Linked DNA regions of Homo sapiens. The main gene of each other region encodes a partner of the protein of the gene in region 2 in a complex. Each region holds a gene or a part of one and is shown on either strand. Other genes may lie near its edges.

The links.
Region 1: the proteins of CDC42 (region 2) and FMNL2 are in contact, whole or in part, in a crystal structure (PDB 4YC7), measured with the Homo sapiens proteins. Residues at the interface, in NP_001034891.1 of Homo sapiens: Val36, Phe37, Asn39, Gln61, Glu62, Asp63, Tyr64, Asp65, Arg66, Leu67, Arg68, Pro69, Leu70, Pro73, Ser88, Glu91, Asn92, Lys94, Glu95, Lys96, Pro99, Glu100, Thr102, His103, His104, Pro106, Lys131, Asn132, Lys133; in NP_443137.2 of Homo sapiens: Ala41, Met42, Asn43, Leu44, Pro45, Lys48, Leu52, Tyr55, Lys59, Glu62, Leu63, Asp66, Gln67, Arg69, Phe70, Lys73, Tyr79, Arg108, Glu109, Ile112, Ser113, Leu114, Arg115, Thr116, Asn117, Ile119, Val122, Asp219, His222, Met226.
Region 3: the proteins of CDC42 (region 2) and WAS are in contact, whole or in part, in an NMR structure (PDB 1CEE), measured with the Homo sapiens proteins. Residues at the interface, in NP_001034891.1 of Homo sapiens: Gln2, Tyr23, Thr24, Thr25, Val36, Phe37, Asp38, Asn39, Tyr40, Ala41, Val42, Thr43, Val44, Met45, Ile46, Gly47, Tyr64, Arg66, Leu67, Leu70, Lys153, Lys166, Asp170, Glu171, Ile173, Leu174, Leu177, Glu178, Pro179; in NP_000368.1 of Homo sapiens: Lys230, Lys231, Lys232, Ile233, Ser234, Lys235, Asp237, Ile238, Gly239, Ala240, Pro241, Ser242, Gly243, Phe244, Lys245, His246, Val247, Ser248, His249, Val250, Trp252, Phe258, Leu263, Asp264, Leu267, Leu270, Phe271, Ala274, Gly275, Ile276.

Annotation. Positions count from the first base shown.
Region 1 is NC_000002.12:152,338,049-152,341,796, reverse strand, and holds part of FMNL2 (formin-like protein 2), read right to left. Parts: intron 1-3,748. UniProt on the Homo sapiens protein: Plays a role in the regulation of cell morphology and cytoskeletal organization. Required in the cortical actin filament dynamics.
Region 2 is NC_000001.11:22,076,561-22,080,308, reverse strand, and holds part of CDC42 (cell division control protein 42 homolog isoform 1 precursor), read right to left. Parts: intron 1,881-3,748; 5' UTR 1,831-1,880; coding exon 1,726-1,830; intron 1-1,725. UniProt on the Homo sapiens protein: Plasma membrane-associated small GTPase which cycles between an active GTP-bound and an inactive GDP-bound state. In active state binds to a variety of effector proteins to regulate cellular responses. Involved in epithelial cell polarization processes.
Region 3 is NC_000023.11:48,681,693-48,685,440, forward strand, and holds the start of WAS (actin nucleation-promoting factor WAS), read left to right. Parts: upstream 1-2,106; 5' UTR 2,107-2,161; coding exon 2,162-2,293; intron 2,294-2,590; coding exon 2,591-2,731; intron 2,732-3,748. UniProt on the Homo sapiens protein: Effector protein for Rho-type GTPases that regulates actin filament reorganization via its interaction with the Arp2/3 complex. Important for efficient actin polymerization. Possible regulator of lymphocyte and platelet function.

The DNA.
Region 1 (3,748 bases), on a different chromosome or scaffold from region 2:
CTGGGGAATTCTACTCTTTAGACCACACAGAACACCCCTACACACATTTCCACCTGAAAGCTCTTCAAAAGCCAATGTCAACTAATGAATCACAATGTATTATGTTCTGGAAATTTTGTTTTCAAGTGGTATGATTTCCATCATCTCACGACTATGTTAACAATTGTGCCAAATTTTATTCCCATTCACAAAGGAGGAAAACCAAGGGCCAGAGGAAAGAGTTTCACTTGTCCAAGTTGGTGCAGCAAATATGATTCTAGAAACTAGGTCTCCTGCCTCCCAGGCCAATGCTAAATGACAGGCCACAAGCCAAAGTACTTCTTATCACTTACGGATTTAAGGCCACGCATACCATCTCTCCCCAAATTTCATCACTTTACACTGTTGCCAGTCTCTTCCTGGAGCCAAACATTTGCATTTGATCAACTTCTATCCTAGATACCCCAATATATTGTCACAGTTTTTACTGGTATTATTAGGAGGAAAAAATGCATCCTGATAATGATAACAGCCCTAACCATATATTCCCACTTTGGAGAATAAAACAGCTCAGGGAGTTACTGCCTAGGGTGAAACTGTAATGGTTCAAAGTGCCAACACTCCACCACCCCTCTTCCACACTCTCTTCCCCTCACAACAGGAGAAAGAATGTGAGAATACAAATCAGCAGCATCTGATGGCCTCACTACACTCCCACCCGCCCATCTGCTTAACAGACTTTATGGCAAGTGCTTTCCTTGGAAGTGGCTGAAAGGGAGCAACACCTTGCAGTGGGAAGTAAACTTAAATGTTAAAACTTGACCTTCCGGCCGGGCACAGTGGTTCACACCTGTAATCCCAGCACTCTGGGAGGCTGAGGCAGGTGGATCACGAGGTCAGGAGTTCAAGACCAGCCTGGCCAAGATGCTGAAACCCCATCTCTACTAAAAATACAAAAATCAGCCGGGCATGGTGGCACACACCTGTAATCCCAGCTACTCAGGAGGCTGAGGCAGGAGAATCACTTGAACCCGGGTAGCAGAGGTTGCAGTGAGCCAATATTGCACCACTGCACTCCAGCCTGGGCGACAGAGCAAGACTCCATCTCAAAAAGAAAAACAAACAAAAAAAACAACAACTTGACCTTCCTTTCCTTTTCACAGGTTTCGCATTTGGAGTATATGCGTTGCACTGACAGGTTGCCTATTCCTTCTGATTTGGAGAACAAACTTTTCAGCCAAGGTATTTCAAATCTGCCTTGAAAAGAAAAACTGAAGAGCACCTTTTTGGACCAGATCAATTTTTAACTCCATGCTTGAAAATAGAAGAGCACAGTGAAGATGCCAAAAGGCTTGACATCTAAAGAGAAGAAACTTCAAATGCACCTCACTTCAGTCACTTCTGAAGAATTTCTGCCAACTTTATCCAGTCTGAAATTTGCACTAACCAGACAGGAATTTTTTACTGCTAGTCGCAGGCCCTTTTTTTCTTCCCAGTTCTAAGCCTATGGAAGCATAATATAAAAGAAAGGCCAGGGGGAGTAGGGAACAGATCCAAATCTCTGCTGAAAGACTAGATTGGTTATTTAATAACTGTATAATTTTAGGCAACTTAGATATCTTTTTCTTTTTTGAGACCTGGTCTTACTTTGTCACCCAGGCTGGAATGCAATGGTATGAACACAGCTCACTTCAGCCTCGACCTCCAGGACTCAAATGATCCTCCCACCTCAGCCTCTTGTGTAGGTGGGACTACAGGTGCAAGCCACCACACCTGGCTAATCTTTTTTTTTCTTTTTTCATAGAGACAGGATCTCACTATGTTGCCCAGGCTGGTCTCGAATTCCTGGGCTCAAGTGATCCTCTCACCTCAGCCTCCCAAAGTGCTGGGATTATAGGGGTGAGCCACTGTGCCCAGCCTAAATAATCATTACTTATGCATCTATAGTATTGCTGATAGCATTAGTTACTGTGAGCATTAAATGAGAACATGTAAAAGGCCTACTCATAGTAGATACTCAGAAAATGTTCCCACTCCTTCCTAAAACAAAATGACCACATTCAATCTCAGGACATGCAGAAAAAAAATGAGAAGGAAATGGACTCAAATTAATCAGATACCAAAGCAGTTCCTGATACCAAATATAATACTGCCCTAAACCATTACTTCCTAATAATTTTAAATCTGTTTGCAGTGCTGCCTGACACCTGATATTGCACAAGATACAGCAGCTAAGACACAGACTTAAAATTGTCCTTTCCTCTGAAACTCAACAAAAGAATTTTAAGGATAGCTCTTCAACAAAGGCATCCAAGGGTGTGCCTTTTAAGTTGTAAACAGTGACTGCAAGCCAAAAATGAGTGAATAATATTATGCAGTGTCTAATGTAGAAACAGGTATTCTCGGACAAAAACCATCAGTTGTTCACCACATCCACCCAGAACCACCTTCTTATCATCATCTTTAAAAATAAAAGACATGGGAGTATTTGTGGATGTGTGTATGTAACCCAGGATGTCCAATCTTTTGGCTTCCCTGGGCCACACTTGGAAGAAGAAGAATTGTCTTGGGCCACACATAAAATACACAAAAACTAACGATAGCCGATGAGCTTAAAAAAAAATCATGAAATAAATCTCATAATGTTTTAAGAAAGTTTATGAATTTGCGTTGGGCCCATGAGGCCCACAGGCAGTGGTTGACAAGCTTGATGTAACCCCCAAAATTAGACAATGGTTAATAAATACAATGGAGGGCCACATGGCTATTACAGATATGAAGAACCCCCAAAAAACACAGGCTAATATTACCTATGAAATATATACATCCTTACATCCTAAAAGAACAAAGATTGAAGTACGTGGCTGACTTTATAATTTATGAAACACTTCCATATAAATTATACATAGGTTAGAGTATAACAGAAACATTGCACATACACACACACAAAGGCATATGCATATATGTGTGTGTGTGTGTGTGTGTGTGTGTGTGTGTATCTCACCTTCCAGCTGTACCTGAAAGGTCAATACAGGGAAGCAAATGGTTTAAATGTATACACTAAGACAGTAATTTTTTCCCTTAAATGTAAGTTTTATAACTATTACTATAATGATACTGAAGATACCTATCCTTGGGAGGATTAAACTCCTAACACTGGGATCCAATTTTTGCTAGTCACTAACTCCATTTTTTTCTATTAAAAAGATTACTTTTCAAAGTTCACCCCTCTAGTCTTAATTCATTAGTCTTTTATTCTCTCATTTCCATTCATACCCACTAATTTTTTATATTCGCACAATTTAACCCATATAAACTGATGGGGAGGGAGGGTATAGTCATTGAATAGATTTGTTCTCTCTTAAGGCTTTCCTAACAAGAAATAAAATGGACTTTTGTCATTTTAATTTTTGTTTACTTCTCTCTGAGGCCTTAAATATTCTAGAGCTGGAAGTTGGGAGGAACTGTTCTCCTAGCTTGAAACAGTCTGTTAATTATTGATGTTAGCCATACTTACAATGAGGTGCTTAGACACTTTTCTATACGGTATTACTATCTGGTTTTCCTCCCAAAACACCCGTATGATCTTTATTATACAAGAAAGTTGAACTGGTATCAATAATGCCAACACAATTTCCATTGCCCTCCACATACATACTTAAAAATCTGCCACTTAAAACTTGTCCTTCAAGATTGATGTCCACAATTAAATGGTTTGAACTGATTTCTTAAGCAACTCATGAAGAAAAGCAAAGTTGAGATTATCACA
Region 2 (3,748 bases):
TCAAAAACAACCCTCCTTTACTAGATTGTTCATATCCAAAACTAGACTAAGAATCAGAAAAGCTGGCTTCCATTCCAAAGTCTACTTATGCTAGTGTAATTACGCTAAGTAATTAAACTTAGACTTCTAAGTCTCATCCCTAAATTGGGCCTGAGTACCCTCATCCATTAAGAGATGGGTAAGACAATATATATTGTCCCATCCAGCTCTGAATTTCTATTACTCTAGAAATGGCAAGCCCCAACTCATAGATGGGAACTTAAATGCATTCTACACCAAATCCATTTCCATATTAACTTCAACAGGTACCATGAGAACATTACTTGTGCCTCATGGTCCATTCATTTACCTAAATCGGTTCATTTAAAATTTTATTCTACTACTACTCTTCCTTCCACTCTATCACTTTTCCAGAGATGTACAACACAAACATACATATAAAACACCCACAAGCCCACTTAAAATATAACACCAGAAGATCAAAGTCATAAAAGACTCAGAAATTATGTTTACAAGTAAATAACTTCAATGGAGACTGAAACAGAAAAATTCTGATAGCTGTCCTCACTCTGAAACAAGATTCATGTACCTCTAAATGTCCCCTGTAAGTCCACTGAACCTCAAAACGTCTTCCATTTATCTTGTCTCCAAATGAGCCAATTCAAAATATCAATATGATTTTAGTGTTTAATAATACCTTCAAATTCTCCCCCCTTCAAAAAAAAAACTTTCCTTATTTTTGAGACAGGGTCTCACTACCTTTCACAAATGAGTGTTACTCTAACTCTTGTCTCTCTCTCACTTCAATATTTTTGTTATTCCCATCTTCCTTCTACCATTCCAAAGAGTTGATTTAAAAAACAGTTATGGGGCCAGGCATGGTGGCTCACGCCTGTAATCCCAGCACTTTGGGAGGCTGAGGCAGGTGGATCATTTGAGGTCAGGAGTTCAAGACCAGCCTGGCCAACATGGTAAAACCCCGTTTCTACTAAAAATACAAAAATTAGAAAGGCGTGGTGGCGGGCGCCTGTAATCCCAGCTACTCAGGAGGCTGAGGCAGGAGAACTGCTTGAACCCGGGAGGCGGAGGGTGCAGCAAGCCGAGATCGCGCTACTGCACTCCAGATAGAATGGACGATAGAGACTCCATCTCAAAAAAAAAAAAAAAAAGAAAAAAAGAAAAGAACAGTTGTGGGAGTGACCCCCAAAGGACTCTGTTGGTGTTCTCGAAACATAACAGGTCTTCTCTTCTCTGCCCCTAAGAACCAGTTTGGAGCTCCATTACTGCTAAGCGAACAGCTCCACAAGAAAAGTGGAGACACATACTACTTTCTCTCAAGTTACAGGACCTCAAATGGTATCCCAGGAGACCTCCAAGTACTGATCAATAATTGGCCAAAATATCAAAAAAAAAAAAAAAAAAGTCACCTCATTCCAAGATGTAGGGCATACTTCACCAAATTGAGACCACCACTCGTTAGAATCTTGTCTACTGGAGTTTTGCCTCCCAGCACTTCTTGCAAACCCTGTGTCACCCCTTCTGACTTTCCACTGATTTTTCAGCTGTTTAAAGTGTATATAATTTACCCATGAGAAGTCAAGATCTTTAAAAACAGGAAACAAAGGCAGACAACAGAAAAAAATTCAGTACACATAGAGAAAGCGTTTTCAAAAGGATATCAAATTTTACAACATTTTACTAACAGAAGGAAGCCTTTATACTTACAGTCGGTACATATTCCGATGGAAATTTGTTTGTTGTGTAGGATATCAGGAGACATGTTTTACCAACAGCACCATCGCCCACAACAACACACTTAATTGTCTGCATTGCTGAAATAGTTTTGTATCCACTTTAAATATTTCAAATCTGATGATGACCTGCAAAAAGATTAAAGACATTTGTTTATTTATACTTACATATGGATTTTTCTTCCTCACTTAGCAACAGGTTCAGGCACTCAGAGCAAGAAAAGAACTAGCACAATTATTATGGCTAAAAGAACCCAATAAGAGACACAATGACTTGCTATAAGTTACAATAACAAATAAGGTCCATTTCTAAGTTTCTGATCCCTGGCTATTCCAACTTCTTAAGTGTTATTTTTAAAAGGTCCAAAGTGGTGTGATAATCAGCGAATTTATTTTTATCATGAAAGAGAAGAGGCTGTATCAGAGAAAATTCCACAGTGTGCTAAATATTATTTTGTGAAAGCTGTTCTTCAGTTACACGTGCACACACACCTGTATGTATGCATGTATGTCAACTAGACTGCAATACAAAGGCCACTGCTTTAAAGAATGGTTCATGATCCAGCCTTATTCAGCCTTACTCAGGCTCTGACCAACAAGCAGCAGAGCACCACACGATCACACGGTAATTATATGAGTAACGTGAGGAACTGAACAAAGAACAGGGTGATCGCTGGCCTCAGCAGCTGTTTTAGCACCAGAATGCCTAGTCCAAAACCTACATTTTTATAATGAAAAAGTCAGATTGCTCTAAAGCATACTGACTTATAAACAGATACTATAGCTTCTCTTACTAGAGTCCTCCTCCATTTTAAGAAGCTATCAATTACAAGTACCAAAGAGTCATTAATTTGAGATGCTTTTTTTCATGTTAACATCTCTAAAGTCAGAATGTATCTTTGAGTCTCTTAGAATCATTATCAGCCATTTTTCCCCCACATTTTGACTTCTATGAAATTGGAATCTTAGATTCAATGAAATACTTTAACAGTTTTCTGAAAGAATAAAAAGAAACACCACCCAATATGTACCTAAATTTTAAGATTTATATTTAAATTAATTTAAATTATAATCCTAAAGGGGTTATAATTAAACATAAAAATACAGAACCACCTAACTCTTGGTCAGATGCCACCATGCTCCTATAGCACCATTCACAACAATTAATCATAACAATTTATAAATGCCTATTAACATCCCTGTAAATGAACCTATACTACCTCATGCACCACTATACTTCTAGCACTGAGCACTTCTAGACTGACACACTGTGAGTTGTTGATTGGATGCAAAAATCACGAAACAAAAGAACATGAAACTACATTAGTGTGAGTAACTCACATGAAATATACACTCTCCCGCTCCTCATCAAAATTATCTGCAGTATATTTTTCTTTTTTTTAGACAGGGTTTTACTCCCGTCACCCAGGCTGGAGTGCAGTGGCACAACCTCAGCTCACTGCAACCTCCACCTCCCAGACTCAAGCAATCCTCCCACCTTGGCCTCCCAAGTAGCTGGAACCACAGACGCATGCCACCATGCCCGGCTGGGTTTTTGTTTGGTTTTTGTTTTTTTAAGAGACGGGTCTCACTGTTACCCAGGCTGGTCTTGAATTCCTGGACTCAAGCAATCCACTCACCTCGGCCTCCCAAAGTCCCAGAGTGCTGGGATTACATGCATGAGCCACCGCAGCCAGCCATATTTATCCTTCTTTATTCAACTTCCTTTTATATCTCCTTTTTCCTTCTCCTTTCCCTTTTATGCACTAAGAAGCACCCATACTAACTAATACAGCATTAAAGATTAACAACCCTGATCCCTAAGATCAATCAATTACTGGTTAAATCTAAAAGCACTCAAATAATAATAGTAAGCAGCAAACACTCATACAGCATTTACTAAGTGCTATGTACTGTTCAAAACATATTACACATATTCACACATTTCATCCTCCCAAAAAGCCTATGAAGTATGTGCTGTATTATCCCTATTTTAC
Region 3 (3,748 bases), on a different chromosome or scaffold from region 2:
TTGAAGGCCACATCGGGGCTTGCCCTGATCAGCAGGTTGGAGGTGCTCCAGGCCCGAAGCTTAGCTGTGAGTGGGGACACGGGAGGGAGGTTGGAACTGCCACTGCAGAAGGGGTTCTGAACCTAGGTTCAGGAGAGAGGCTTTGAACCTGCACGTGTGGGAAGCCATGGAAGTTTCCAGGAAGGACTGCAGGTCCCAACTGGAGATGTGCCGTTCCTCCTTCAGGTACCTGGGAATGTCAGTCACACCCCAGACCTGCTCAGCTCCCCCAAACTGCTGTTCCTGTATCTGAGAGCTTCAAGTCTCCAAATGGCCTACCTCATACATGGGGAAACTGAGGCCTGGGGAGGCCGGGGACTGAGCTAGCATTCACTTGTGGAAATAGTCTGGCATCATCTGGAGAAGTTAGAGACATGCAAACCCTACAGCCCTCAGATTCCCGTCTGAGAGTCTGCATGCCTATGTGGACCAGGAGATGTGTGCGGGAGTGAACACTGCAGTGTTGCTCCCAACAGCAAGAACCAGAAGCAGCCCAAAGGGCTGTTACAGGAGAATATGGACACCCAGGCTGCACATGCACACCATGGAATGCTGTATGGCAGTGGAAATAAATGAACAGCTACCACTATAGGCAAACAGGAATCACAGCAACAGCCAAGAGTGAAGGCGTGGAGGGACGAGACCATGCACTCACACCTGGCCTGCCTGGCTCGCACTCCGGGCAAAGGGGTCAGAACAGTGACTGGCACACACGTTAAGTGCTATGTGAGTGTTAAGATAAAACTAGGATGTCCAGTGGGGAGAAAGCAAGCCTTTGAAGATTATGTGCTTTTACAAACTTCAAGTGCAATGAAAACTAAACAAGATGTTGTTCAGGCATTCATATATGATATAAAGTTCCTTTCTTTAAAAAAGGGATGGGCTGGGCACGGTGGCTCACGCCTGTAATTCTAATACTTTGGGAGGCCGAGGCAGGTGGATCACGAGGTCGAGAAATCGAGACCATCCTGGCCAACATGGTGAAACCCTGTCTCTACTAAAAATACAAAAAAATTAGCTGGGCGTGGTGGCGTGTGCCTGTAGTCCCAGCTACTTGGGAGGCTGAGGCAGGAGAGTCACTTGAACCCGGGAGGCAAAGGTTGCAGTGAGCCGAGATCGTGCCACCGCACTCCAGCCTGGCGACAGAGTGAGACTCCATCTCAAAAAAAAAAAGAAAAAAAAAAGTATGACAAGCAGAAAGTAATTTGGGAGCTGCGGGGAGGCAAGGGTAAGGGATGGGGAAGTGGACCAGAGGCATATGCGTCATTGGCAGTGTCTAAGCACTCACGATAGGCGTGGATCACAGGGGCTCGCTCTGTAATTAAAAGGAAAAGGGTTTTTGTTGTGTTGTTGTTGTTGCTGTTTTTGAGACAAGGGTCTTGCTCTGTCATCATCCAGGCTGGAGTGCAGTGGTGCAGTCTCAGCTCACTGCAACCTCCGCCTCCTGGGTTCAAGCGATTCTCCTGCCTCAGCCTCCTGAGCAGCTAGGACTACAGGTGTGTGCCACCATGCCTGGCTAATTTTTGTATTTTTTAGTGGAAATGGGGTTTTGCCATGTTGCCCAGGCTCGTCTTGAACTCCTGACCTCAAGTGATCCACTCGTCTCGGCCTCCCAAAGTGCTGGGATTACAGGTGTGAGCTATTGTCCCCAGCCAAAAGGAAAAGTTTTACTGTAGTAACCCTTCCGGACTAGGGACCTCGGGCCTCAGCCTCAGGCTACCTAGGTGCTTTAGAAAGGAGGCCACCCAGGCCCATGACTACTCCTTGCCACAGGGAGCCCTGCACACAGATGTGCTAAGCTCTCGCTGCCAGCCAGAGGGAGGAGGGTCTGAGCCAGTCAGAAGGAGATGGGCCCCAGAGAGTAAGAAAGGGGGAGGAGGACCCAAGCTGATCCAAAAGGTGGGTCTAAGCAGTCAAGTGGAGGAGGGTTCCAATCTGATGGCGGAGGGCCCAAGCTCAGCCTAACGAGGAGGCCAGGCCCACCAAGGGGCCCCTGGAGGACTTGTTTCCCTTGTCCCTTGTGGTTTTTTGCATTTCCTGTTCCCTTGCTGCTCATTGCGGAAGTTCCTCTTCTTACCCTGCACCCAGAGCCTCGCCAGAGAAGACAAGGGCAGAAAGCACCATGAGTGGGGGCCCAATGGGAGGAAGGCCCGGGGGCCGAGGAGCACCAGCGGTTCAGCAGAACATACCCTCCACCCTCCTCCAGGACCACGAGAACCAGCGACTCTTTGAGATGCTTGGACGAAAATGCTTGGTGAGCTGGGGATCTCCTGCCCCCGCCCCGTCCCCACCGTTTCTTCCTCTTCCTCTCCTCCTTCTCTCTCTTCCCCTCCTCCCGCTCCTCCTTTCCCTCTCCATCATCTCCTCTCCTAGAATTTCCCGTCATAATCCACCCTTCCCAGGAAGATCTCAATGTCTACTTGCCTTCCCTCTGGCTGCAGCTCTTCCTTTGGGCCCATGACTGTCATGAGGCAGGAAGGACCAGGTCTGGCTCCAAGACCTTGTGGCTACCCCTGACCAGACTCCACTGACCCCTGCTTTCCTCTCCCAGACGCTGGCCACTGCAGTTGTTCAGCTGTACCTGGCGCTGCCCCCTGGAGCTGAGCACTGGACCAAGGAGCATTGTGGGGCTGTGTGCTTCGTGAAGGATAACCCCCAGAAGTCCTACTTCATCCGCCTTTACGGCCTTCAGGTGACCCCCCCACCCCCGACTGGACTTGCAAGCCAGTTCTCAACCCGCAAACCCAGATCTGTGTCCATATGTGTCCATAGCTTCAAGACCTCAGACCTGATCAGTGAATCCCTGAGCCCCAGAACCAAAGACTCATCCAGATGGCAAACTCTGACTTGCCTTTCTAAGTCTGCAATGACTGGCCCCAGTCTCCGTATCAAGATCTCTAAAGCCCCCAGTATTAGTCTGCTGCCTAAGCCTAATCTTTTCCACAAATTCCAATAAATGAGCACTGTATTTGTACCTGAACCTCAAATCTATTCTAAACTCAACATTTTGCATCCCAGGAATCTCTCATCAAAACTCCTGAACCCCAGATGTTTGCCAAGCTCCTAAGTCATAAATCTGTTCAACAAACCCCAAAGTTGAATATTCCATTGATCCTTGAACTCCAAATCTGTCCTTCTAAATCCACAGCACAGACCCCAGAGTTCCCATATTAAAATTCCTGAACACTCAAATACCGAGGTAGTTCTTAAGCAAAAAGTCTTTTCCACAATCCCCTGACCTGAACTTTCTAGGTTTAAGCCCCAAATTCATCCTTTTAAACCCATAAAGATGGACCCAGCATAACTTCCAGATCCCAAGGCTATCAAATATCCACCAAACTCCTAAACCATAACTCTCTCCACAAACCCCAAATTGCACTTACTTTAGCTGGACTCCCCGCGAAACTCCCAAGTCTATGTGTCTGAACTTCAAATCTCAACTCCAACCCCCAAATACTAGAATCCTACCTGTCATGAATTGGGGCTGGGGTGGTGGGGGAGGGCATGGATTGAATCTGTGAATGAGCCTCAACTTCCTAAGACTAGAGTCCTAAATTATGAAATTCAAGCCCCCAAGTCCCAGATCTAGGGCCCCAAACCCCAAATCCAAACCTCTCACAAAAGTGTATGGCTCCCAGACTATACCCCACAATCCACACCCTTAGACACCAACTCTCTGGTGCTGAGCTGAAAATCTCCAAACCAGACT